Regions from separate parts of the Homo sapiens genome. Here regions 1 and 2 are each linked to region 3. Evidence: fine-mapped expression QTL. A gene starts in region 3. Each other region holds a variant in brackets. All regions are shown on one strand. Distances are between the middles of the regions. Region 1 has its middle 38 kb from the start of SUSD1. Region 2 overlaps PTBP3 (polypyrimidine tract binding protein 3). Region 3 holds the start of PTBP3 (polypyrimidine tract binding protein 3).

Evidence for each region. PIP is the estimated chance that this variant, and not a neighbour inherited with it, causes the effect.
Region 1: its variant is fine-mapped to the expression of PTBP3 in cerebellar hemisphere (GTEx, PIP 0.96).
Region 2: its variant is fine-mapped to the expression of PTBP3 in whole blood (TOPMed, PIP 0.98).

The regions. Positions count from the first base shown.
Region 1 is chr9:112,207,240-112,218,415 of GRCh38, reverse strand. It overlaps a transcript of PTBP3 not described here. Among named protein-coding and RNA genes, the nearest start is that of SUSD1, 38 kb to the right of the region's middle. The variant G/A (reference allele first, on the strand shown) is at 4,905.
Region 2 is chr9:112,229,587-112,234,586 of GRCh38, reverse strand. PTBP3 (polypyrimidine tract binding protein 3) reads left to right here. Exons shown (of 14, transcript NM_001163788.4): 9 at 2,349-2,488; 10 at 3,174-3,207. Among named protein-coding and RNA genes, the nearest start is that of SUSD1, 57 kb to the right of the region's middle. The variant G/T (reference allele first, on the strand shown) is at 2,873.
Region 3 is chr9:112,331,635-112,342,160 of GRCh38, reverse strand. PTBP3 (polypyrimidine tract binding protein 3) reads left to right here and starts at 8,542. Exons shown (of 14, transcript NM_001163788.4): 1 at 8,542-8,691. RefSeq lists a cis regulatory region at 4,369-4,382, enhancers at 4,303-4,447, 4,126-4,625, 7,498-8,468 and silencers at 8,218-8,537, 8,688-9,177.

The sequences.
Region 1 (11,176 bases), 120 kb after region 3:
GTACTTTGGGTTTCCCTTTGTCTTACCTGTAATTCTAATGATGTCCTATTTTCTTTTCTTTTCCATAGCCATCCATCTAAACGTGTCATGGTTAGTGAATAGTGAGCACATATTCAAACAATGTTCAAAATGGGAAAAACACAAAATCTATTAACTGTCTCTGTCTTCATTTAGGAATAATTCTCGTTTTGAGGAGCAAAGTGCTTTCCTAATCTTCCTATGATGCACCTTCTCTGGCACTGCCCCGTAATGCAGGGGCATGGCGGCATGCTTTCTTGCTTGCACACTCACTCTCCTTTTTCTTTCTCTCTTTCTCCCCATATGTGCAGTGCCAAACTACAGTTGGAACACTATTTCCAGTTTTGTTCAGTATTTGGCTTCCCTACGGCATTAGTATACATACACTTTGAGACACAAGGTGTGATCTCAAACCAAATTTGTGTCCTCTTTAAAAAGGTAGCACAGATACTAGCTGATGCTACATTCCTTTTCCTTAGACAAACGTTTTACTTCTCAGATCTTTAAAGAATTGTTGGATTGCAGAAGTCTAGACTTAGCGTTCATTGTATATTTTAGTCTCCTGGAAGTGGGAATTTATTTTGAATGGAATAGAAAATTAGGTAATCACTACTAATCTTTGCTGGCTTACCTGTAAAATCTGTGGTCTCCATAAATACTGGGAAAATAAATAGGTATTTTTACATGAGGCATTTTTATCAGGAAAAGATAAAATAACTGTATGACTATATTAGGCTTTTATAAACTCGATTGACTGTGAAATGCTTATTTACTCAGCAGAGGGGTTATAACCATCATTAAGTCATGTCAGTGACCCAAGAGACCACCTAGTTCAATTTCCAGTTAACAGCAAGGAAGCCCAGGTCTCTGTGACTTGGTCCAGTGCACTCTATTGCACCCAGGTGTTGCAGTTTCAGACTTCCAAGTGCTGCTAAGGTTATGATCTTGAAGATCTGTACACAGTATTGGAGTGCTTATGTTTTCTCCTAAAAGCCACATGATCATACCTCACTGCAACGTAAAGACATTGAGTAAGTGGTGAGAATGTTTCTGATGAAGGGTAAAAATGCCTTATCTACTTCTGAAAAATTTTTTAATGTCGTTTCACATTTTAAATTTCAGAAAACTAACAAAAAATGTAGTTACTGTTTGTATGAGTTTGCTAGGACTGCCATAAAAAAGTCCCACAGACTAGGTGGCTTAGACACCAGAAATGAGTTTCTCACAGTTCATGGAGGCTCGCAGGCCACGATCAAGGTGTCAGCAGTGTTGATTTCTTCCAATGCCTTTCCTTGGTTTGTAGATAGCTGTCTTTTCCTTGCGCCTTCTACAAGCTCGCTCTTCTGAGTGTGTCCATGTCCTAATCTCTTCTTATAAGGACATCAGTCAAAGATGAGGGCTTACTCATATTATCTCATTTTACCCTAATTCCTTAAAGAGTCTGTCTCTGAATGTGGTTACATTCTGCGATTCTGGGGATTAGGACTTCAACGTAGGAATTTGGGAAGGGGGACACAAAATTCAGCCCCATAGCACTGTTTTATTCATTCAGTTCACCGAGTACTGATTGTACCAGCACTTGAGCTAGGTGTTGGGAAAAATATAGAGTTAAGCACGTGGTGACTTACCTTTTAGAAATGTGTAATGTAGTAGATATGTCAGCCTAAATCCACAAATTAAACACGTTACTTTTGAACTCCTGCCTTCAATAGGAATCCCCAAAAATGGATCATGAGGCCTCTCTGAGGCACTTCTCAGAATACATATGGCTATAACTATCCTACAGCTAGTTGTGAATATGTAGGAATATAGACCCTGCCATAATTTGTCCTTTTTACTCTTAGAGATAAATAGCCATATCAGAGCAATGATTATTTCTAAGACAAATGCCATTACTTAAAAAAACAATTGTAGAAATAAGAGGACATCGTCAGACAAGCTGTGCCCAGTATTTAATGTCTAACATTTGTGATAAATGAACTGGGATGCTGGGTTAGGTATAGTTAGGAGTGATAGACCTATTTGTAGTCTTACTGTTTCTACATCAAAGCTTTTTTTCCTGTTGTCTATTTCAACCTATAATGGGAATTCATCACTTTCCTTTGTGTGTTTTTTATCAAAACAGTTTATGCTGAAGTGATAAAACTCTAGTAATAATTTTGCTGGAATTACCACATTCTGGAGCCACTGGGTTCTGATGTAGAGTTTCCAACTCTACTAGTATAAAGAAACCAGAAAAGTAATGATTCTAATGTTCCTAGCAGATTCATAATGTCTATTTTTTTATTTTTCTTTCTGTTTTTGTTTTGTTTTGAGACAGAGTCTCACTGTGTTGCCCAGGCTGAAGCAGCCTCAAACTCCTGGGCTCAAGCCTTCCTTCTGCCTCAGGCTCCCAAGTAAGTGGGACTACAGGTATGTGCCTGGCTAAGTTTTTTACTTTTTACTTTTGTAGAAACTGGGTCTCACTTTGTTCCTTAGGCTAGTCTTGAAGTCTTGGGCTCGAGCGATCCTCCCTTCTCAGATTACAGTAGGAAGCACTGGGATTACAGGGGTGAGCCACTGTGCCCAGCCTTCTCAATTTTTTTACCCCTATATTTGTTCTAAGGATATAGACAGGGTAACAGGAAAAACTCAATATTTCTTTTGGAATAAATTGCCCTCTAATCACTTGATAAGCATCTCTATCATTATTCTGTGCCTAAAATTAGAGAATTATCTGCTCAGTCCTTATTCCTGCAGAATACAAATGTCACATTCTAACCTGTTAAGAGATTGTCTTCAAAATAAAACTGTTATTAACTACATTAATGTTAGACAAAGTACACTTTAGGGCAAAAGGCATTATTAGGGATAGATTTCATAATGATAGAGTTCTATAGTAGAATATAGTAATGCAACTGAACAAAATGAAGCTCATTCCACTGCATGGAAGAATCTCACAGATGTGATGCTGAACAAAGGAAGCCACGTACAAACACTATATAATTTTATGTACATCAAGTTCAGAAACAGGATAGTTACCTTTGGGAAGGAGGTAACTGAAAGAGTATGAGGAGGGGTTTCTGGTATCTGGTTAATGTACTTTGTACCAGTTACCCAGGAGTGTTTCAAAAATTATTATAATTGAGCAAGGAGCTAGCAACCAATTCTTTTCTTAAGTCAGCAGATTATTCTAGCCAATAAGTAAGGCCCTCTTATAAAGAACCCAAGATACCATGGACTGAGTTTCAACATGAAACTCTTACATGTGCATATATTGCATTGTCCTGACCACGGCATATCTACAGGAAAAATATTTCACTGACCAAAAAAAAACAAACAAAAAAACATGTTTTCAAGTAAATTTTACCCTTCCGAACAGTTTTACATCCAACTAGATTCAGAAAGATTTAATTAATGTGTTTTAGTTTTGGTTTTGCCACTGTAACTGATCTGGTGAGCTGTTTGACATCTAACCCCTAATATATTTCCCTTTTATTTTTTGAGACAGGGTCTCACTGTGTTGGCAAGGCTGAGTGCAGTGGGGCCATCAATAGCTCACTGCAGCCAACCTCCCAGACTCAAAGCAGTCATCCCATCTCAGCCTCCCAAGTAGCTGGGACTATAGGCACCCACCACCACACCCAGCTAATTTTTTATTTTTTGTAGAGACGAGTTCTCACTATGTTGCTCAGGCTAGTCTTGAACTCCCGGACACAAGTGATCCTCCCCCCTCAGCCTCTTGAAATGCTGAGATAACAGGAGTATGCCACTGCATCTGGCCTCCTAATATATTTTATCAAAAGAAGCCAGAAAGACCTACCTAGATCTCTAGCATCCTAAGAGAAGACTTTATAAAAGTTAAGATTTTTTTTTTTTGAGACGGAGTCTTGCTCCATTGCCCAGGCTGGAGTGCAGTGGCACAATCTTGGCTTACTACAACCTCTGCCTCCCTGGTTCAAGCAATTCTCCTGCCTCACCCTCCCAAGTAGCTTGGATTACAGGCATGAGCCACCACGCCCAGCTAATTTTTGTATTTTTTAGTAGAAACAGGGTTTCACCATGTTGGCCAGGGTGGTCTTGAACTCCTGACCTCAAGTGATCCACCTGCCTTGGCCTCCCAAAGTGCTAGGATTACAGGCATGAGCCACCACCTGGCCAAAAATTAAGATTTGTAATACACAAGTATTACTATGATGAACTCCCATTTACCCAGTACCCAACTGCAACTAGTGGCCAATTTTGTTTAATCTGTTCTTTACCCCACTCCTAGGATTACTTTTAGTTTTTCATTTTTATTTTTTGAGACAGAGTCTCTCGTTGCCCAGGCTGGAGTGCAGTGGTGTGGTCTTGGCTCACTGCAGCCTCCACCTCCTGGGTTCAAGCAATTCTGCCGCAGCGTCCTGAGTAGCTGGCATGCACCACCACACCTGGCTATCCTAGGATTTCTTTTAAATCCCAGTCATCATATAATTTCATCTGTAAACATTTCAGTATAGAAGTCCATACATTGCAGTTGATAAAGGCTTTTACAGGTTCCCTCTCCATCCTTTTTTTTTTGTAATTTATTTGTTGAAGAAACAGCTCTTTGAATTTTGCCAATTACATGTAAATCGAGAAGAGCTCATTCAGATTCTGTTTTCTCTCTTCTTTCTCCCTGCCTCCCCTTCCCCCCTACCTTTTTTTTTTTTCGTAAGAATACTTCATTGATAGCGTTGGATACTTCCATAATGTGGCTTTTCTTTTGATGGCAGTATCCATTGATCATTGCCTAGATCCATTAATTTTTAGGGACTGCAAGATGGTAAAGCTATAATTCTAATTCCTTTTGCTTGTATTAGTTGGATTTCTTCTATATAAGAGAAACCCCCATATCAGCTATTTCATTACTTTGAGGTACAGCTTCT[G/A]TAGAAAGGCAAAATAAATGCTTGGGTTTTTTTTGTTTCCTATTCTCCTCCAAAAGTTTGCCTTTTTCTAAAGCCTGTTTTTATGGAAACACAAACATTTGTAAAATTGAAAGACTGATATAATGAAACTTTGTTTCTGTCACCTAACTTACGTGATTCATATTCTGCGTTGTATCTTCTATACTCCTGCCCCTCTCCCTTTCTACTGGGTAGATTATTAACTATTAATTTATATAGTAGTTTTCAAACATATTGGTTAAAGTTTATAATGTTTTTAAATCTCTGCCTTATCAGTAATTATATCTTCTTGTTTTTGGAGGGATGAGGTCTTGCTGTGTTTCCCAGGCTGGTCTCAAACTCCTGGCCTCCCAAAGTGCTGAGTATGCAGAAGTGAGTCACTGCACTCGGCCTATACCCATTTTTATTTTTGTTTATATTTACTATTTATTTACTTATTATTTGAGACAGAGTCTTGCTCTTTCATCCAGGCTGGAGTGCAGTGGCACAATCTCAGCTCACTGCAATGTCCGTCTCCCAGGCTCAAGCAATTCTTGTGCCTCAGTCTCCCAAGTAGTTGGGATTACAGGCGTGTACCACCACGCCTGGCTAATTTTTGTGTTTTTATGTTTTTAGTAGAGACGGGTTTCACCTTGTTGGCTAGGCTGGTCTCGAACTCCTGGCCTCAAGTGATCCGCCTGCCGCAGCCTTGTAAAGTGCTGGGATTACAAACGTGAGCCACCGCGCCCAGCCTGTATATCCATATTACTGTTTTTCAGTTGTGCCTTTTCTCCTTTTCTTGAGCCATCTTGCAGAAGTATTTTCAAATAACCTGTTTTTCATGTGTTTTGATCCTCCGCAATGTTTGTTTTTTCATTTATTAGTGTTTCATTTCATTTTTAACTTTATTTTATGCTTCTTTTATACTTCTTATTTTGTGTGACTTGATATGTTAATCATAGCTGTCTTAGATTGCCTTATATATCCTATGAATTTTCAATGCACATTTATCCTTTATGACAGAAACAATATATATGAACTTGAGAATGAAATATAACTAGGTAGGAACAAAAACTTATTTAGGTAGGAATTACTTTGAAAAAAACACAAATGTCTGCATGCCATACTACCCTGACTGCACCCGATCTCATCTGGAAAAAATGCCAAGGTTTAGGATTGTCCTGATCGCTCCCTCACCCCCATGCCTCTTATTGCTGTGCTTTAGTGTGGGCTGATTTGACAGATATATGCATTGCCAGAGGATCCAAAGTTGTAAAAGTCTAGCCATGCCATCAAGGAACATTATAATAAAGATGGAAAGCACTGGTATGTCCTTTCTTGCAACATGGACTAGCTTGCAAACTAAATCTAAATAATTTACCTGATTTTTTGAGCATCTAATGTTTTTAACCATCTCTCAATATGGTCCAAGAATAGTAGCTACCAGCCCCAGATTTTCTAGAACAGGCAGACTATCCTTGTATTTTCAGAACACTTCCAGTTTTTTTATTCAAAAAATAGTTCTTGGCTGGGCACGGTGGCTCATGCCTGCAATTCCAGCACTTTGGGAGGCCAAGGCCGGCAGATCACCTGAGGTCTGGAGTTCAAAACCATCCTGGCTAATATGGTGAAACCCTGTCTCTACTAAAAATACAAAATAGACAGGTGTGGTGGCTCACGCCTGTAGTCCCAGCTACTCGGAAGGCTGAGGCAGGAGAATCGCTTGAACCTGGGAGGCAGAGGTTGCATTGAGCCAAGATCGCACCACTGTACTCCAGCCTGGGTGACAGAGCGGGACTCTGTCATTTAAAAAAAAAAAAAAAAAGTTCCCAGGGCTGCAGAATTAACTGTTAGTTTGTGTGCTTGGTCTATGATGTTAGCTCACTGTTAGAATGAATTTATTCTAAATTCTTTTAAATAAGGGCATAAAGATTGAAGAGATTACAGGGTTCTAGTGACAACCCCTATTTAGTAAGAAGCAGGATCTTCTTTATAAGAAATAAAATACCCATGCAGAGACCAGCATACAGTAGATTATCTGTTGAATATCTGCCATTTCCTTTCAGCTGGTAGGAGCTTCTGACGGAACCAGCCCCAGATTCTTTCCCCTGGCAGTCCCCATGACAAAGCCACTGAGCTAGATCATCATTGATAGAACCCTAGTGCTTGTAGTGACTTGGTGGCAGCCATTGCGTTAATACAGACCAACACCTTCTCTAAGCCAAGCTGCCATCTGATGAATGAAATACCCAGAGAGCTGAACATATACAGAAGGAAAATGGAGCCTTGCCTCAACCTACAAAAACATCTGCTGTCTATATAGGGCTTCGGGAATTCAGTGACAAACTCCAACAGCACAACTGTATTTGAGCGTATGGATTCATAGATCCATACCCTCACCAAAGTTTATTGTCTCTGACCTGTACATTTGTGTGATAACCATAACTTCTTCCATCATGTTCCCCAGAAGCATAGATTGCCCATATATGGGCAGTCCCAAGGAGGCCAAAATAGTTCCGTGTACATTGTATTAGTTTACTAGGGCTACTGTAACAAATTACATACAACAACCTGGGTGGCTTAAATAATAGATACTCATTTTCTCACAATTCTGGAGGGTAGAAGTCTGAGATCAAAGTGTCAGTCAGCAGGTTTGGTTTCTTCTGAGGCCTCTCCCATTGATTTGTAGATGGCCACCTTCTCCCTATGTTCTCACGTGGTTGGTTATCTTTTGGTTTGTGTGAGTCTGTGTCCCAATGTCCTCTTAAAGGATACCAGTTATATTGGAGTAGGGCCTGCCCATATGGCCTCATTGTACTTTACCTCTTTAAAAGCTCTATTCCCAAATACAGTCAGATTTTGAGGTACTGTGGACTAGGGCTTTGGATTTGTCAGGGTTCTCCAGAGAGACAGAACAGGTAGGATAGATAAATAAGTAGGTAGGTAGGTAGATATAATTGGTTCATGTGATTGTAGGCTGATAAGTCTTAAAACAGGCCGTCTGCAGGCTAGGGAGGCCAGTAGGGGGTGGCTCATTCAAGTCTGAAGGCCCCAAAACCCAGGGAAGCCACTGGTCTAACTCTCAGTCCAAGGCCAAAGACCTGAGAACCCAGGGGGCTGCCGGTGCAAGTCCCAGAGTCCAAAGGCCAGAGAATCTGGAGTTCTGATGCCAAAGGACAGGAGATAAAATGGTGTTCTAGCTCTAGGAGAGAGGAAATTTGCCTTTCTTCTTGCCCTTTTGTTCTATCCAGGCCCCCAGACAGGCTGCTGCAGCCAAGAACATCCCCTCACAGAGGGCTTTCGTCCTGGGAATAGCAGAACCACAGCTTTTCTCATCCTGCTCGTAGCCACCTGTTGCTGAGGCTCTCTTATTCCACCCAGACCCCACTCATGGACTGGAGGCTTCCTTAGGCATGACATGCTAAGATAATGGGGCCTTGGTCCTGGCTTGCGAGGTGGTGGTTCCATGGCAAGAGAGGCAAGCCGAGAGGACCCCAGCTGCTCTGCACTGACAGAGGCTCTCTCCTTACCCAAACTTTAGTCAGGCTTAGAAACTTTTTTTTTTTTTTTTTTTGAGACAGAGTCTCACTCTGTCGCCCAGGCTGGAGTACAGTGGCGTGATCTCGGCTCACCGCCACCTCCATCTCCCAGGTTCACCCCATTCTCCTGCCTCAGCTACTTGGGAAAGTAGCTGGGACTACAGGCGCCTGCCACCACACCTGGCTAATTTTTGTATTTTTAGTAGAGACAGGGTTTCACCGTGTTAGCCAGGATGGTCTCGATTTCCTGACCTTGTGATCCACCCGCCTCGGCCTCCCGAAGTGCTGGGATTACAGGTGTGAGCCACTGCACCTGGCCAGGCTTAGAAACTTTTTTAGACTAGGCCTCATTCTTGGACCTTGTCCTCAAGAGCCCAGTTTTAGCAAGAATCCTGGCAGTTTAAAAAGAATCCCCTTGACCCTTTATATCTGATCAACCTGACCTGACTTAAGCAAGAATCCTGTTTGGTAAATGTAGCAAGAATTTCCCTTACCCTTCATTTCTGTCTCCTCTTAGTAATTTTCCATCTACTGACAACCCTTCTCCAACTTACTCCTTGCCTATAAATCCCTACTTGTTCCTCGTGAGTTTGTAATTGAGACTGATCTCTTCTATCTCAATAATTTTTTTTTTTTTTTTTTTTTTTTGAGAACGGAGTCTTGCTCTGTCACCCAGGCTGGAGTGCAATGGTGCGATCTTGGTTTACTGCAACCTCTGCCTCCTAGGTTCAAGTGATTCTCCTGCCTCAGCCTCCCAAGTAGCTGGGATTACAGATGCCTGCCACCATCCCTGGCTAATTTTGTATTTTTAGTAGAGACAGGGTTTTACTACGTTGGCCAGGCCAGGCTGGTGTAGAACTCCTGACCTCAAGTGATCCACCCACCTCAGCCTCCCAAAATGCTGAGATTACAGGCGTGAGCCACTGCGCCCAGCCTCAATTATCTTGACACCTATCGGGATCATTCTGAAGAAAGTCTTCTTTCTCATCTTAACAAGTGTCAGAATAATTTTTTCTTTAACACCTCCCTCACAATCAAGGGCTTAGCCCCTAGAGTGGGGATGTCACTCAGAGAGAAGCTTACCATCGTTCCCTTTCCCAGCTCCAGTGCCCTGGCTCAGAGATTGTACCTGCGGGGAGAAACCCACCATAAAACAGATAGCTTTTCATCTCTTTCAGAAGGAATTTAGCTTATTGCAGCAGAGTGAATAATTTCAAGTCTAAAAGCACTCTCAAGGTCAGTGAGGTGTGATAAAAGGCAACTGGGAGAATATTCAAGATACAGGTTAAACTGTAGAAGGCTGGTTTGCAGGAGAGAACTGGGAATAAGATAGCTGGAAGAATCCTCCTGGGGTCAGAATAAAAATCAAACACTGACCTAAAAAATTGTTCAGTTGAAGAAGCCAGAATTCAACTGTATAAATTTTAGAGCAGTTTGTGCTCCCAGGGTACTGTTGAAAACACTAGAGCAATCATCTGATAATAGTATGGTTTTAGCAGGTAGGTGGGGTCAGTGAAAAGAGGAGGAGAGACCCACCAAACCCACTGATTCCGGAGTGACTGTGGGCATACCCAGTGCTGTACCTCCTGAAGGAACAACATTAGTGGCTAAACACAGTTTGGAGAAAAGGGACTTCACTAAAATAATCCAGTCGTTTACTACATAAATAAGCACATTATAATAAGCTCCAGAGAAGGGGGGACCAGCAACCAGAGTTACTACAATATATGATTTTCAATATCTAGTTTTAAACCAAAAATTACAAAGCACAAGGAAACAGGAAAGTACAACCCAAACAGCAGAAAAAAAGCAGACAACAGAAATTGACAGTAAGAGGAACCAGATGTTGCATTTATCAGAAAAGACTTTAAAGTAGCCATTATGAACCTGTTCAGAGAACTAAAAGGAGCCATGATTAAAGAAGTAATTGAAGGTAGGATGACAATGTCACATCAAGTAAGACAATATCAACAAAAAAATTGAGATTATTAAAGGAGCCAAATGGAAATTATGGAGTTGAAAAGCACAATAACCAAAAAATTCACCAAAGGGCTCAACAATAGGTTTGAACTGACAGAGGAAAGAATAACAGACTAATAGAGATTAGACACACTGAAAAACAGAGAAAAAAGAATGAAGAGAACCTTAGAAATGTGAGGCACAGCATAGGACAAATGTCGAAAGTCAAAGACAATGAGGAAATCTTTAAGCAGCAAGAAAAAAATAACTCATTACTTACAAGGGAACCCTAGTAGAATTAGTGGCTCACTTAGCAGAAACAATGGAGGCCAAAAGGTAGTGGGATGACATTCAAAGTCTCAGAGAAAGAAACTGTCAACCAAGAATTGTATTGCCAGCAAAGCTGTGATTCAGAATGAAGATAAAATAAAGATTTCCCCAGAAAAATAAAACTGAGAGAATTTAATGTTGGCAGCCCTTCTTTAGAAGAAATACTAAAGTTCAGGCTAAAAGCAAGTAACCTCACAGCCTTCTTGCACTTTGGAACACTAAACAGCACTGCAGCACTGCTCTTGGGGGCTCTTGTAAACTGTGAAATCACCAAGAAAAATACAAAAAACCTGGCACTAAGTAGACCACAAGAAGGACGCTTGTTTACAGTATGAGAGCTGATACAAGAGGTTTGTGTGTCACCTTGTTCAGCCTCAGCTGGGAACACATATGTTGAGCAATTCAAATATTTTTGCCACTGTGTGCATGTTGCAAATGACCATGAAA
Region 2 (5,000 bases), 100 kb after region 3:
GTTTGCTTTTGGCACAAATAACTATAGGCTAACTACATTAAATAACCTTAGATTTGCCTTTCCAGTTGTTATATAAAATGTATAAGCTGCTCTGTCTTTACTGATAAACTTATCAATTATGTGTTGAACAGACCTGTCTTATCTTTGGGCCTTCAATGCCTTTGACAGTACTCAACAAATAATATGCAGTCATACTATACATTCACTATTCATCTTTGGAAAACCTTTTGTCATTAATGGGTTTTGAAGATTACGATAGAGGGGTATGCATGCTGTTTATTTCAGGGGATATATATTTTGTCTCTTTAGCTAATGGAGGTAATTAAGAGATAGGAGTTGATTAATACGTTGATAATGATTCCCATTATTTTCAAAACAGTAAACAAAATGAATTTGATTATAATTTAAGGAAAAGAGAAAATGTTACTTTATGGTTTTATCTCTGGTGTCTAAAGAAAACACTGAGGTTGGTGATTAGGGGAATGACAGAGTTTGGTAAGCCTACTCCACATATTTCCAACTTAAACTGATTCATGACTTTAACTACATTTTAAATTGCAACATAGCTGCTTTCTGGCAGTAATCTTTATATTCTAACCTTTGAATTCTGGGAATTTTAACTACTCTCTCTCTCTCTTTTTTTTGTTGTTGTTGTGAGACAGATAGCTCACTCTGTTGCCCAGGCTGGAATGCAGTGGTGCAATCTTGTCTTACTGCAACCTCCACTTCCTGGGTTCAAATGATTCTCATGCCTCAGCCTTCTGAGTAGCTGGGACTAGAAGTGCATGTCACCACGCCCAGCTAATTTTTGTATTTTTAGTAGAGGTGGGGTTTCGCCATGTTGGCTAGGCTGGTCTCAAACTCCTGGCCTCAAGCGATTAGCCTGCCTCAGCCTCCCAAAGTGCTGGGATTAAAGGGTGAGCCACTGCACCTGGCCAATAACTACTCTCTTTTTGATGGAGAGGATGGAGTTAACAGAAAGAGTGATATGAAGGTTGAGGTTTTAAATTTTACCATCTTGGTGGTTTTTAGTATATCTTAACATATGTTTAATTAAGTGAATATTCTACCTATTGTGTTAAAAACATAGTTTATTTATTTGAAGCTCCTCAAGGTTTAACAATTGGTGGACATTTTGATATGTTTTCCCTCATTTTGGATATTTCTTTTAGATATACTCTATATATAAATATTAATTAATATTAAGAAAGATGAAAAGTGAATAAAAGAGGGCTTCTGACTTGATAAGACTTTTAAGCTGATAGAAGATACACACACACACACACACACACACACACACACACACACACACACCCTACAGTGTAGCTCAACTGTGCTCTTAGCTCATGAATAACAGACATACAAACAGCAAAAGTTATGCAAAAGTCAGGGTTGGACTGGAGGGGCATGGGAATATGTCATGTGAAGGCTATTGATTTCGTGCAGTAGTATTCAGCCTGAGAATGTGGTCTGCACAGTTTTAAAATTCAGCAGTATGGATGATGGTAGTTATGACCTTCTTAGATTATCAAGCAGAATAGGCTGAATGTAAAATATATTATAATTTAATTACATGATTTGTGGTGAAGTGGTCAGACTGTTTATTTTAAAGAGTCATTAAATTAAGGAATTGGTTCATTTTGCATAAACTAGAGGTTTTACCTTAGACAGGTTTTAAGCTGAGAACACAAAATAGTGGGAAAGTGTGCTGTTTTAAGTATAGTGTCAGTATTCTGCTGTTACTGAGCTTTCAGGATTTCCATAGTACCTAGAGAAGTAGAGAGCTCAGAACATTTCTGCTACAAAAGAATATTGAATTCTGTAAATATCTATTTTGGTCAGAATAATATTTAATATAGCATTTTATACAGTCACAAAATGTTTTTCCCATATAAAATGTCATATAGCACTACCTAGCATGCATGTTTTTGACTTTCTGCTGAAGGACTTTAAAAAAATACATATCTGATTTTATGGTAGAAGTCAGTATGAAAAGCATATACACTTGATAGAAGGGTGTTAGGATATATCTATTGTAAGAAACAGAGGGAGTGTTTGTAGTTGATAGACCCTCTGAAAAGCCTAATAGCGTTAGGCCCAGTGAGTTCAGTTACTCTGCAGAGTACTGTGTGGATAATAGAGCACTAAGTATAGTAATGTCAATAGATGAGGAGCTCAGCTTGCAGACAGACTCTGTAGGGCAGAAAACTGGCCTTCAGTATCTTTATGGTAGCCTTGACACATTTTCTTTCTGTAGTTTTCCTTTCCTCTTTATTTACTTAAATTGTATCAAGTGTTACAGTTCTTCAAATAATTAGAATATGAAATGCTTTTGGTATTTTTAAAAGGTCTATCAGTTCCAGCTGTTCCTGGAGCTCTTGGTCCTCTCACAATCACCTCTTCTGCTGTCACTGGAAGGATGGCCATTCCTGGGGCTAGTGGTATACCAGGAAATTCTGTTCTACTCGTCACAAATCTCAATCCTGATGTGAGTTGAAAAGTATTATATGTAAATAGTCTTTCAGGAGAAGGTATAGTAGCACTTTTTTCTTTCTTTCTTTTCTTTTCTTCTCTTCTCTTCTCTTCTCTTCTCTTCTCTTCTCTTCTCTTCTCTTCTCTCTTCTCTTCTCTTCTCTTCTCTTCTCTTCTCTTCTCTTCTCTTCTCTTCTCTTCTTTTCTTTTCAGAAAGGATTTTACTCTGTTACTCAGGCTTCAGTGTGGTGCTGCATTCACTCACTGTGACCTCTGCTTCCTGGGCTCAAGTGATCCTCCCACCTCAGGCTCTCAGGTAGCTAGGATTACAGGTGCCCACTACCACGCCTGGCTAATTTTTTTTTTTAATTCTTTTGTAAAAACAGGATCTTGCTATGTT[G/T]CCCAGGCTGGTCTCAAGCTCCTGGGCTCAAGCGACACACACCTCAGCCTCCCAAAGTGCTGGGATTACAGGTGTGAGCCACCATGCCTAGCCATGGTAGCTTCTGATCCAGGGTTGTATTCAAATTAAAATGCTTAAGTTTGTTTTAAGAACTTCTATTAAAATTCATCACTAGTATATACGGAAGAAGCATATAAAACCATGCTTTAAAATAAAATCAACTGCCATTACAGTATAAATAAACTTATTTTCAATTTTTACTTAAATTGTCAGACACTTAACTTTGTGTTACCCTTTACAGCTTATCACACCACATGGGCTTTTTATCCTATTTGGTAAGTTCATTTTTGCTATTTTATTATTGTCTACAGGTGTGAATTGAGCACATTTCACTTTTTTAGTAATATGTATTGATTACTTCTGTGTGCCAAGTATTGTGCTGACACTGAGGATAAAACAGTGAATAAGACTTAGTAAGTAATTACAGTGATGATTTATAGTATGGGAAATATAGGTTTTGTAAAGGGAGTGTAACGCAGGGAGACCTAACCTAGCAGAGGGACTCAATAGAAATGATAGTTAAGCTGACTTGTTCAACATGAGTAAGAATCAGCCAGGCAGAAAGGGAGGGCAATGTCTTCACAGGGGAGGGGAGAGGGGAGAGATGGGTCCTGGTGCATGGAAGTGAAGGAAGCCCAGTGGTGAGCATAGGCAAGCATAATGGAGACCTGGTGAAGGTGGACAGCTGCGTAGGGTCAAAATCGTGAAGAGCTGTTAAAAGCTTTGTTAAGGAATTTGGTTTTTACCTAAGAACAATCGGAAGCCATTGAATAATTTTAAGGCAAGAGAGTGGTATAATGCGATTCAGGTTTTAAAAATAGTCTCCAAACTTTCGAACAGCATAGAAATATGAGAACAATGAAATAAGCAATATTTACTATTTTAAAGATTTTTATTAAGGACAGTTTATTTTTCCATAAAACATGATTAACATCTAATGAGCAGTATGATTAATATGCTTTGATATTACTAAAAATCCTTGTTTTCATTTTGATTCAGTAATCCAAGGGTAGATTATTTCACTACTTGATTTTAATGGTTGTCATAGCTGAAGAAGATAAATCATAAATATATATAATCTAAATGCAGGGGTTTCATTGTTGCTGTACTTCAATAATTATTTCATTATTTTTTTCATGTAATCCACCAATTTTTGTCATGTTTTATCTAGAAAAGTTAGATTTTTTCCCCGTAAATCAGTGGATCTTGAAAACTGTTGTGTTTGAATATGTCTGACAAATAGAGTTAAAACTCACTGATATGCTTCATTTGTAAGATTTTTAAAATAAGATAGAAAACTGCTTCCAAATTTTTTGAATGTGATAGTTTTAGAGACAGGGTCTCACTGTTTCCCAGGCTGGAGTGCAGTGGTGTGATCATAGCTCACTGTAGTCTCAAACTCTTGGGCTCAAGCAGTCGTCCTCCCTCAGCCTTCCAAGTAGCTGGGATTATAAGTGCAAGCCACAACACCAGGCTGATAGGTTTTTTTTAATGGAATTTTTTCAGATGTAATTTACAACCATACAGTTTACCTGCTTTGGGTTTACAACTCAAGATTTTTGTAAATTCACAGTTGTGTGGCCATCACCACAGTCCAATTTTAGAAAATTTTCAACGCCCGAGAGAAATTCCTCATGCTCATATGCAGTCACTATAAAAGTTTTTATTAATGATTGATGCATGTAATTTTCAGTAATAAAATCAAGTATTAATAATACATTTTAATATGACTCTTTTCTAGCCAAAGCATGTTTCATACCAAAAGTAGTTAATTTCTCACTCATTTAAAAAATGGCTGGGTGCAGCAGCTCATGCCTGTAATCCCAACACTTTGGGAGGCCAAGGCAGGAGGATCAGATTGTTTGAGACCAACCTGGGCCAGATAGTGAGACCCCATCTCTACAAAAAATAAACACCCACATTTTGCAAAACAAATGGTATATGTTTAGTTTTTAAAGAATAGTTACATCACCATCGTGTTATTTCTGAGAAAGGTAGCAAATTCGGAATACTTGTCTCCATTTTAAATTTTTAAAGTGCCATTAGTATGATAATGATGTAACTATTG
Region 3 (10,526 bases):
TGGAGTTCTTATGTCTAAGGGCAGGAAAAGAACAGTGTCCCAGCTCCAGAAGAGAGAAAACTTGCCTTTCCTCTGCCTTTTTTTTCTATCCAGGCCCTCAGCCAATTGGATGATGCCTGCCCACATTGGGTGAGGGCAGATCTTCCTCATTCAGTCCACTGATGCAAATGCCAATCTCTTCCAGAAACACCCTCACAGCACACCCAGAAATAATGCCTTACCAGCTATCTTGTTGTCTCTTAAAGCAGGCAAGTTGACACCTAAAATTAGCCATCACAGGGACCTAGTCATTCTAAAGGAATTCAGGGAAAACAAACCAAACCAAATGTGGATATTTAGCAGAACTATGTAAAGAATTTTGTGAAGTTTCTGAGAGAAAGCACACCTTACTTGATGGCTATCTACTTATTGGAGTCACTTCACAGTCACTTCCCACTTCACCATCCCCACCAAGTAATTGAAAGATGAAACAAGAATATAAACCATTGATATCTAGACCTACAAGTGACTTAAAAACAAAAACAAAAAAAATCAATAACGCACAGAAAAGCTGAGATGAGATTTGTGAGCCCTCAACTCACACTATTCTTTAGTAAGCTGCAGATCAAAGTAGTACTGCCATCATTCAAAACAAAAACAAAAACAACAACAACACACACACACACACCCAACGAAAAACAAAAACACTTTTCTTGCCGGATACAAACAAGGGAATAAAATTCTACCAGAGGCCAGGCATGGTGGCTCATGCCTGTAATCCCAGCACTTCAAGAGGCCGAGGCAGGCGGATCACTGGAAGTCAGGAGTTCGAGACTAGCCTGGCCAACATGGTGAAACACCATCTCTACTAAAAATACAAAAATTAGCCAGGCATGGTGGTGTGCACCTGTAATCCCAGCTACTCGGGAGGCTGAGGCAGGAGAATCACTTGAACCCAGGAGGTGGAGGTTGCAGTGGGCCGAGCTCACACCACTGCACTCTAGTCTGGGCGACTTGAGACAGACCCTGACTCAACAAACAAAACAAAACAAATTCTAGCAGAGATCTTGCCAAAAACAAAAACAAAAACAAAAAACCCCACAAGAAATCCAAACCAAAACAAAAACACCCAAATGAAGTAGAAGAATATAATATGTAAAAACATGAAAATTACACTTTTAAAGAGGAACAAAAACGGATAAGAAGAAAACATTAGACAAAATACTTCTTTATCCTCTTTGGATAATTAAATATGGAGTCCATGAAACAAGAGATTTTATTTTATTTTATTTATTTTTTTTTTTTGAGACAGAGTTTCGCTCTTGTTGCCCAAGCGGGAGTGCAATGGCGCGATCTCGGCTCACCGCAACCTCCGCCTCCCGGGTTCAAACAATTCTGCCTCAGCCTCCTGAGTAGCTGAGATTACAGGCGTGCACCACTACGCCCGGCTAATTTTGTGCTTTTAGTAGAGACGGGGTTTCTCCATGTTGAGGCTGGTCTCAAACTCCTGACCTCAGGTGATCCACCCGCCTCAGCCTCCCAAAGTGCTGGGATTACAGGCGTGAGCCACTGCACCCGGCCCTAAACAAGAGATTTTAAAACATAGATAAGACAATAACATGACATTTTAAAAAAGCTGGCAGAACAAATGAAAGAGAAGAGGAGAAAACAAAATTATTATGTTATTTAAAAACACGTTAAAATAGCAGGGAATCAAACTAATACTGCAGAAATCTGAACTATGATTGGAGAGAATAGACTTGAGAAAATCATATAAAATATTAAGAAAAAACAAACACAAGACATTAAAGAAAAATATGTAATAGAATGAAGATCTAATAAATAACGAATTGGTAATGCTGAGGAAGAATATAGGGCAAGTTTACCAGAAATACAAATTTAGTATTAATACAATAAACAGTTTCAGAAACAAAAGGAAGATTGTCTTTGCAAGGCACAAGCTGTTTCACATGTTCAATTAATAAAATATTGGCTGCCTATTATGTAGTAGGCATTGTTCTGGTTGCTAAGAACACACCAGCAAAAATTAGCCAGGTGTGGTGGTGGAACATGCCTACAGTTTCCGCTACTCAGGAGGCTTAGGTGGGAGGATCACCTGAGCCTGGAAGGTTGAGGCTGCAGTGAGCCACGATTGCACCACTACACTCCAGCCTGGGTGACAGAGCGATACCCTGTCTCAAGAAAATAAATAAATAAAAAATAAACATGTTTAAATAAATATGAATTTTTATAACATTTAGTGTCATGGTTATAATCCTGATAGAAATTTATATCATTTAAAAATTGGGCTGGGCAGGCAGGGCATGGTGTCTGACACCTGTAATCCCAGCACTTTGGGAGGCTGAGGCGGGCAGATCACCTGATAAGTTAGGAGTTGGAAACCAGCCTGGCCAACATGGCAAAATCCCATTTCTACCAAAAATACAAAAATTAGCTGGGTGTGGTGGGGTGTACCTGTAATCCCAGCTACTTGGGAGGCTGAGGCAGGAGAATCGCTTGAACCTGGGAGGTAGAGGTTGCAGTGAGCCGAGATCATTCCACTGCACAGCAACCTGGGTGACAGAGTGAGACTGTCTCAAAAGAAAAAAAAAAAAGAGTGAAAAGAAAAAAAATAAAAATGGCAAGTAAATAAAGGTAAAGAAAAAAAATAACAACAATCCAAGAGATTTACTTCTAAGTGGGGTCTGGGAGACTTCTAGGTTAAGAAATTCATCCTCAGGATAGAGAGTGGGGGACAACAGTTTTAAGGACAAAAAGAAGTCAATTTTAAAGGGCAATGATGATTCTTAGATCACTGTAGTGATTATCATTCAGATTTTCTTAGCCCCTTAGGATTCACGCCTGTATTTTTTTTTTTTTTTTTTTTTTTTGAGACAGAGTCTTGCTGTGTCAGGCAGACTGGAGTGCAGTGTCACGATCTCAGCTCACTGCAGCCTCAACTTCCTGGGCTCAGGTGATCCTCCCACCTCAGCCTCCTGAGTAGCTGGGCCTACAGGCATGAGCCACCACGCCTGGCTAATTTTTTATATTTTTAGTAGAGACGGCATTTCGCCCTTGCCTAAATCTTAAAGGATGATTTTCTGTGAATTTAAATAAAAAAGGCTGTTTCATTAAAAATTCTGGGAGACACTGGAACCTAGGTGATATAGTATGACAAAAAACAGGGAGAGGAATACTCCCCTTTTCAGAAAAGTGCTCCAGAAAGCCCAATGCAACTTTGGCATGGGCTGGCAAATTATACTATAGGACAGTGACAAGGGACAGCACCTTCAGCATAGACATGAGTCCTCTGTGCCAGGCACTGGCCATATTAAGAACTTCATGTGGAGATGATTACATCAGGGCCAGGCATGGGATGACAAAAATGGACGTGATTCATAGCTGCTGAGAAGTCAGTGAGCATGTAGGAGACACTTACATGCCGCCTCTTCAAATAGTTGGGAAGGACTTTGAAGAAAGGCTCATAATTCAACAGACTGGGCAGAGTCGGTCAGAGTCAGTGTGTGTCAGCTGTTACAACCTTATTTGACTACCAAGGTGATACAGCCTGAAAACTATAAATTATACTCACATGCCATTTTGCTTAAGCCTTTGATGTTTGTTATTGTTTAATTATTGAACAAATAACAACAAATATTAAGGGAACACTCAGCCAAGGTTTCTTTATTTTGAAATAATTGTAGATTCACAGGAAATTTAAAAAATAAGTACAAAGAGGTCCTGTGTACCCTTCAACCAGTTTCCCCCAATAGTAACATCTTAGTAACTGTATTACACTATTAAAAGCAGCACACAGACACAGTGCAATCCATAACTTCTCTTCAGATTTTGTCACTTTTTCATGCATGTGTTTATCTAAAGTTCTATGCAATTTTATCATGTGTAGATTTGTATAACCACCCCATAATCAAGACACAGAACTGTTTTATTACCACAAATATCCCCGTTCTTACTCCCTTGTAGTCACAGTTGTCTGTATCCTCTTCCATCTGCTCCCACCCTCTTCCTAATCCTTGGTAACCACTAATCTGTTCTCCATCTCTATAATTTTGTCATTTTGAGGATGTTATAGAAATGGAATCATACAGCATGTAACCTTTTGAGATTGGCTTTTTTCATTTAGTATAATTTCAGATGTTTCTGTTTTGGGAAATGCAATGTTAATTATGATGATTTTGTATTTGTCATGGGATAGAATGATATTAAAATGTCCAGCTTCCTAGATTCACCTAATAGCTGGTATTATTTCTGACTTATTTGGCATCTTTGTATTATTTTATATATTAAGAAGTCTTACCTGTAAACAGAAATAGGGTTATGTTGGTTAAATGTTAACTAACCACTGCCTACTGGAATGCCTTAAGGCAAGTGTTCAAAGGTTACATGTTGTCCAAAGATAATCGTGATGGGGGTGGTGTCTCTCATCAGAAAAAGGTGTGTCAGGGGAATTTCTTAGTCAAATCAGAACAAAAACACAAGAGAAAATGTTAGAAAAATTATAAACTAAATTATTTGTATCTGTCTTCCTTTTCAAAGCACAGAGCAATTAGCAAATAGAGAAAATGTAACTCTCTTCACTATCAAGAAGCCAGTATATAGAACCCATCAGTTTCAGGTCAAACCAGGTCATGTAGGTGATATCTGAGATATCTGATTCCAGAAACTTCTGTGGAGATGATAGAAAGCTGTGGCTCTTCCACATCATGTAGGCTATGGGAACAGTTAGGTTTCTCAAAGTGGTTCTTGAGGAGCTAAACTCTATGCTACCTACTATTTTTGAATCAAAGTGACTCACAAACCCATGGAGCTTAATCTATAAGTTCTTTGAATTGGCCAGGCACGGTGGCTCACGCCTGTAATCCCAGCACTTTGGGAGGTGGAGGCAAGCAGATCACTTGAGGCCAGGAGTTTGAGACCAGCCTGGCCAACACAGTGAAACCCCATCTCTATGAAAAATACAAAAATTGGCTAGGTGTGGTGGTGCACGCTTCTAATCCCAGCTACCAGGGAGGCTAAGGCAGGAGAATTGCTTGAACCTGGGAGGCAGAGGTTGCAGTGAGCTGAGATCGCGCTACTGCACTCCAGCCTGGGTGAGAGAGCAAGCCTCTGATTCCAAACAAACAAACAAACAAACAAAAAGTTCTTTGAATTTAGAACCAAGGGGCAGGGGAAAGAGTTAAGGCTTCACCTTTTTTGTTGTAAACTGTTTTCTGTTTTCTTATATCTAGGCTTCTGTTGTAAAGCTGGACATTGAGTATTTAGGAAATGCCAAACAGTTTTGTTAATTTCAGTCAGGTGCACTGTTTTTACATTGCAGACTTCTCGGAATTATTGTTAGTATGAACAATAAATTTCGGACACACTTTATATTTACCTTTATTTATTGAGATGGGGTCTTCCTGTATTATTTTTTAATATTGAAATTTGGAATAGCAAAGATAGGGGTCACGCTCTGCTATTTTTTAATATTAAAATTTGTTAGCTTAAAGCAAAGGGTAAGAGAGACATAACTTTAATAATTTATTTTTATTTTTATAAAAATATAGAGACAGGGTTTCACCATGTTGCCCAGGCTGGTCTCACACTGCTGAGCTCAAGCAATGCTGCCGCTTTGACCTCCCAAAGTGCTGTGATTTACAGGTGTGAGCCACCATGCCCAGCCAAATTTTTTTTTTTTTAAATAAAGAAACTGTAAATTGGTACAGCCTTTTTGGAATCATTTTCAAAAAATTTATCAAATTTGAATTATAAAGGCTATAAAGGCTTTATATAAAGGATTGTTGAATTATATAAAGGATATTAAGGCTTATGTCCTTTGTTTCTCAATTCTACTTCTAGGGATCTATTCCTCAGATGTAATAATATGTGTGCAAAGATACTCATACATTCATGATATTTTCTGCAATAGTGTTAGTTATTTTGAATACTTGGAAACAACGTAATTTCCACTGTTTTGGAAAAGGTTAAATTATGAAATGAAATTATGAGGCTGGGCATAGTGGTTCATGCCTATAATCCCAGCACTTTGGGAGGCCGAGGTGGGTGGATCACTTGAGGTCAGGAGTTCAAGAGCAGCCTGGCCAACATGGTGAAACTCTGTCTCTACTAAAAATACAAAAATTAGCCAGGCAGGGTGGCAGGTGCCTGTAATCCCAGCTACTCCAGAGGCTGAGGCAGGGGAATTGCTTGAGCCTGGGAGGCAGAGGTTGCAGTGAGCCGAGATTGTGCCACTGCACTCCAGCCTGGAGTCTCACTTTGTCACACAGGGTGGAGTGCAGTGGTGTGATCTCGGCTCACTGCAACCTCTGCTTACCGGGTTGAGATTCTCCTGTCTCAACCTCCTGAGTAGCTGGGATTACAGGCGTGCACCACCAAGCCAGACTAATTTTCCTATTTTTAGTAGAGATGGGGGGTTTCACCATGTTGGCCAGGCTGGCTTCGAACTCCTGACCTTAAGTGATCTGCCCGCCTCGGCCTCCCAAAGTGCTGGGATTACAGGTGTGAGCCACCATGCCCAGCTATAATCCAGGATTTTTAGGTGAAAAAAAAAAAAAAAAAAAAGAAAAATGGTAAAGGTCGCTGGGTGCGGTGGCTCACACCTGTAATCCCAGCACTTTGGGAGGCTGAGGTGGGTGGATCACAAGGTCAGGAGTTCGAGACCAGCCTGACCAACATGGTGAAACCCTGTCTCTACTAAAAACACAAAAACTAGCCAGGCGTGGTGGCGGGCGCCTGTAATCGCAGCTACTCAGGAGGCTGAGGCAGGAGAATCACTTGAACTCGGGAGGCAGAGGTTGCAGTGAGCTCAGATTGTGCCACTGCACTCCAGCCTGGGAGACAGAGCAAGACTCCGTCTCAAAACAAAAAAACAAAAAAACAAAAAAACAAACAACAAAAAAAAGTAAGGTCCAGAAGGATGCACGCAGAATTGTTACAGTGGTAGTCATGGGCAGGGGGTGGTTTGGGAAGAAAAATATTAATGATAACTTTTCAATATTTTATAGTGCTTGAATTTTCCAAAATGAGCATTTATGCTGATATTACTTGTGTAGCTAAAAAAAGGGTTAAGGAAATTTCATCAACAGAATATATCCCAAATACAGTGATAGAAAGACTGCATCAGCTACTTATCTTGTTGATATTCTACATTTCCATCTGGCAATGTTTACAAATGCAACTTAATATTTAGATTTAATATACAAAACAAAATGTATTTGACATTTTGGAAGGGGACTGAGGTTAGATACAGGACTTTAAGAATTACCTCACCGAATTACTCTACCTATTTGAAAAGTTGTATGTCAAAAATATACATAAACGGACTGAAGAATCCATTCAACAGTGACGGCTGGAACCTGATTTTCTTGTGTATTCATGCAGTGCCCGGCACATAGTAGGTTAATACTGACTGAATGATGAATGAGTCCACAGTTTAGATCTTTTTAGCAGCACCTACTGATCTGAAAGCAGGAAATTAGCAAGGATAGATGTTTGAGGTTCTTGTTAGTTGCTTTTCAAATGACGAAGCCACGGGGAGGAGCCCCGCTCTTTTTTACTCAGTAGGTTAAGAATTTGGCTTAACAGTTTAGGGGGTTACATTTTGGTGATCTGTGAGTTGAAAAAGTACTCAATTTCTCACTAAAAAGGGAAAAAAGCAAGCGTGTTGTCACTCGTTATATTATATATATACTTTTTGCTCAGACCAGAGGGAAGGGCTCTGGTGCAAACGTTTCCTGGTTGTGAAACTGTGAGCAAATCACTCTCTTTGTATATGTATTTTCATCTGAAAAAAGGGAATAATGAGTAAACTTTTAAAAAATGCTGGGAATATAGCCATTCCATGTTTGTACAATGAATTTTTCATATAAATTCAATACTAGACGGTTAGGTCGAAATGCACTCAGATACTTAAATTGTATACAAATTCCAGTCCGGGCAGCCTCTTTCACCTCATTCATCGTCCCAGCCACACCTATGGGGCTGGTGTCGGTCCCAGCGGTCGACTCCAGCGCCGGGCTGCCAGAGGCTGGTCCCTGGACGTGTCATCTACAGCCTCGCGCACCCGGGGCAATTCCACCTCGTTTCTGGGGTCCTTGTGGGACATTCCTTCCTACTCTTGGGAGTCAGGTCCCCATAGCTTTTCCTGCCGGCAGAGGGAGGCATTCAAACCTGGCAGGCCCGGTCTGCGAAGCCGGAAGGCCCGCGGGGCCGCGGGAGGGCGGGCGGGGTGCGCGGCGGAGCGGGAAGCACAAGGCGCGCGCTCCCGCGAACGCAGGAGGGAGGCTGGGGGCGCGCGCGCGCGCCGGGCCGAGGGGCCGAGAGGCGGGGTCTTACAGCGACCGCGGGAAGAGGGCGCCCCAGAGCTGAGCCGGAGGCCGGCTGCCAGCGGGGCGAGGGTGGGCGCGAGCGCAGGGGCGGGCCCCGAGGGAGGGCGGGGACGGTGAGGGGGCGGGGTCGGGCTAGGCGGGGACGCGCTCGCGGGGTGGGGAAGGCGGGGGCGCGGCGGTGGCGGGAGCGTGCCCGGTCCCCGCCCCTGTTCCCACTCTCCTTCCACCTCGGACCGGCCGGGGCTCCGCAGAGCCAAAGCTCGCTTGTCCCCGGAACCGCCCTGCTGCCGCCGCCTGCTTCCTCTGCTCGCGGTTAGCCCGTCAGTCCCTGCTCTGTGCGCGCCTCCATCTGGGCCATGGATGGGTAAGTACTAGGCGGCGCGGCGGCCGCACCGGGTTGCCTTGGCGCCGCTTCCACCCGGCTCTCCGCGGGACGCGTAAGGGCTGGGGAGCAGTGCGCGGCGCCGGCGGCCGGAGGAGCGGCCCCGGCCAAGCCCGACGGCGGGGCTTCCGGGCGTCTCGGTGGGGATCCCGGAATCGCGGAGTTGCCGTCCGCCGCAGGCTCTCCTTTCCCCACGCGGCGCCCCGGACACGTCCGCTGCTTCCTAGCCTTACTCGACACACCCGGGAGCAGAGGAAAGCCCGGTCCGGCCGCGGTGCCGAGGTCCGCCCTCCGCGCCCCGAGTCCGGGGAGCCCAGCTCGGCCTCCCGACACTTCCTCTCAGAAAATGGTGCGCGGCGCTGGGGGAGGCGGAGGCGGCGCGCGGGGCGGGCGTCCTCCTGCCGGGGGAGTTGCTGTTTACCGGCGAGGTGGGGCGAGCGGCCGACGGCGGGTGCACGCGTCGGTACACGTCTGGGCGGCGACCTGGTCGCAAGCCATGGTCCCACGCGGGGTCCCAGGGCCGCCGCGGGACTTGGCCGAGGTCTCCCGACTTGTGCTGTGAGATACGTTAACGCTTTCTCGACACCAGGGGTCTGGACTTAGTGACCATGGACGCTTCCCCCTCACCTTTCTCTCTCCCCAAGAAACTTAATGAATTATCTGCCCGTGTATGTAAAATATGATGTACGAGCGATTTTCGGGGGCATTTCAAATGCTCAAAAATTTAATGGGGGTCCGTGACCAAAATAAAAAGATTTAGAGTCTATGTATATAAACTGTTCTCTGGGGACTCAGGGATATGGGGTGGGACTTGACATATTTTGGTAATTAAAGTAACAACTATGTTAGGATTTTGGTGAATTAATTGAAGGTTGTAGTATCTGTACCTACGGATTAAAAAAAAATCTCCAACTCGGTTTATTCCCATTATGTATTTGAGGTTTTTTTTAGCTTGTTACCTACTTTTGATGACAAGATTTCTGTGAGGTTGTGGAATATATGCAACTTGCTAGAACAGTAAAAGTCGTTCACATGTTGCCATACAGTTGATGATATGCTATTTGAAGATGAAATCTTCCAACAGCTTTTGACCTCATTAGATTTCATTTATTTTAGTTTCACAATATTAAGTGTATATGACATTTCGGATTGATTCATTTGAATGCAGATTGCACACTGCTACAGACATCAAAGTGGAGTTTTAGATTTTATTCATGATTGTGATGTTCTTTATTTTTATTTGATTGAAGCTTCAAAAAATTTCTTAAAATTATAACTTTTTTGGGTACACAGTAGGTGTATATATTTTGGGGGGGAATTGAAGCTGTTTTTATTGTTTGATTGAAGTTTCTTCGAGAACATTGTTGAAAACTTATTTCACATTACCTTATTCAGTTGCATTTTATATGTTGAAAAATTTTGTGGTCGTAAAGATTTGTGTCACTAATATTTTGGTTCAGGCAGGCTGTGAATTTAGCATTTCATTATGTGTAGTTAATTGTCTGGAAGGTTTGACTTAAATAATGGAAGCAGGCTATTTTTTTGTGTCGTAAAATGTATAGTTATAATAAAGAGGACTCTTGAATTTTGCGTCTTTGCTGTTAAACTGTAGGATAACTGTGAAGTGCAAACTTACTTTTTGATAGTGTTTAAGAAGTTTACTCTCCCTTCACGCTATTTGTGGTTTTAAAGGTAGTAATGGGTTTATTGGTTTGAATATGCAAGGCAGTTATACAGATACTGACTGGAAGGTAAGTTCATTTGGAAGTTCAAGTCGGAGCATGATTTGCCCTTTGTATCAGAACCAATAACCATAG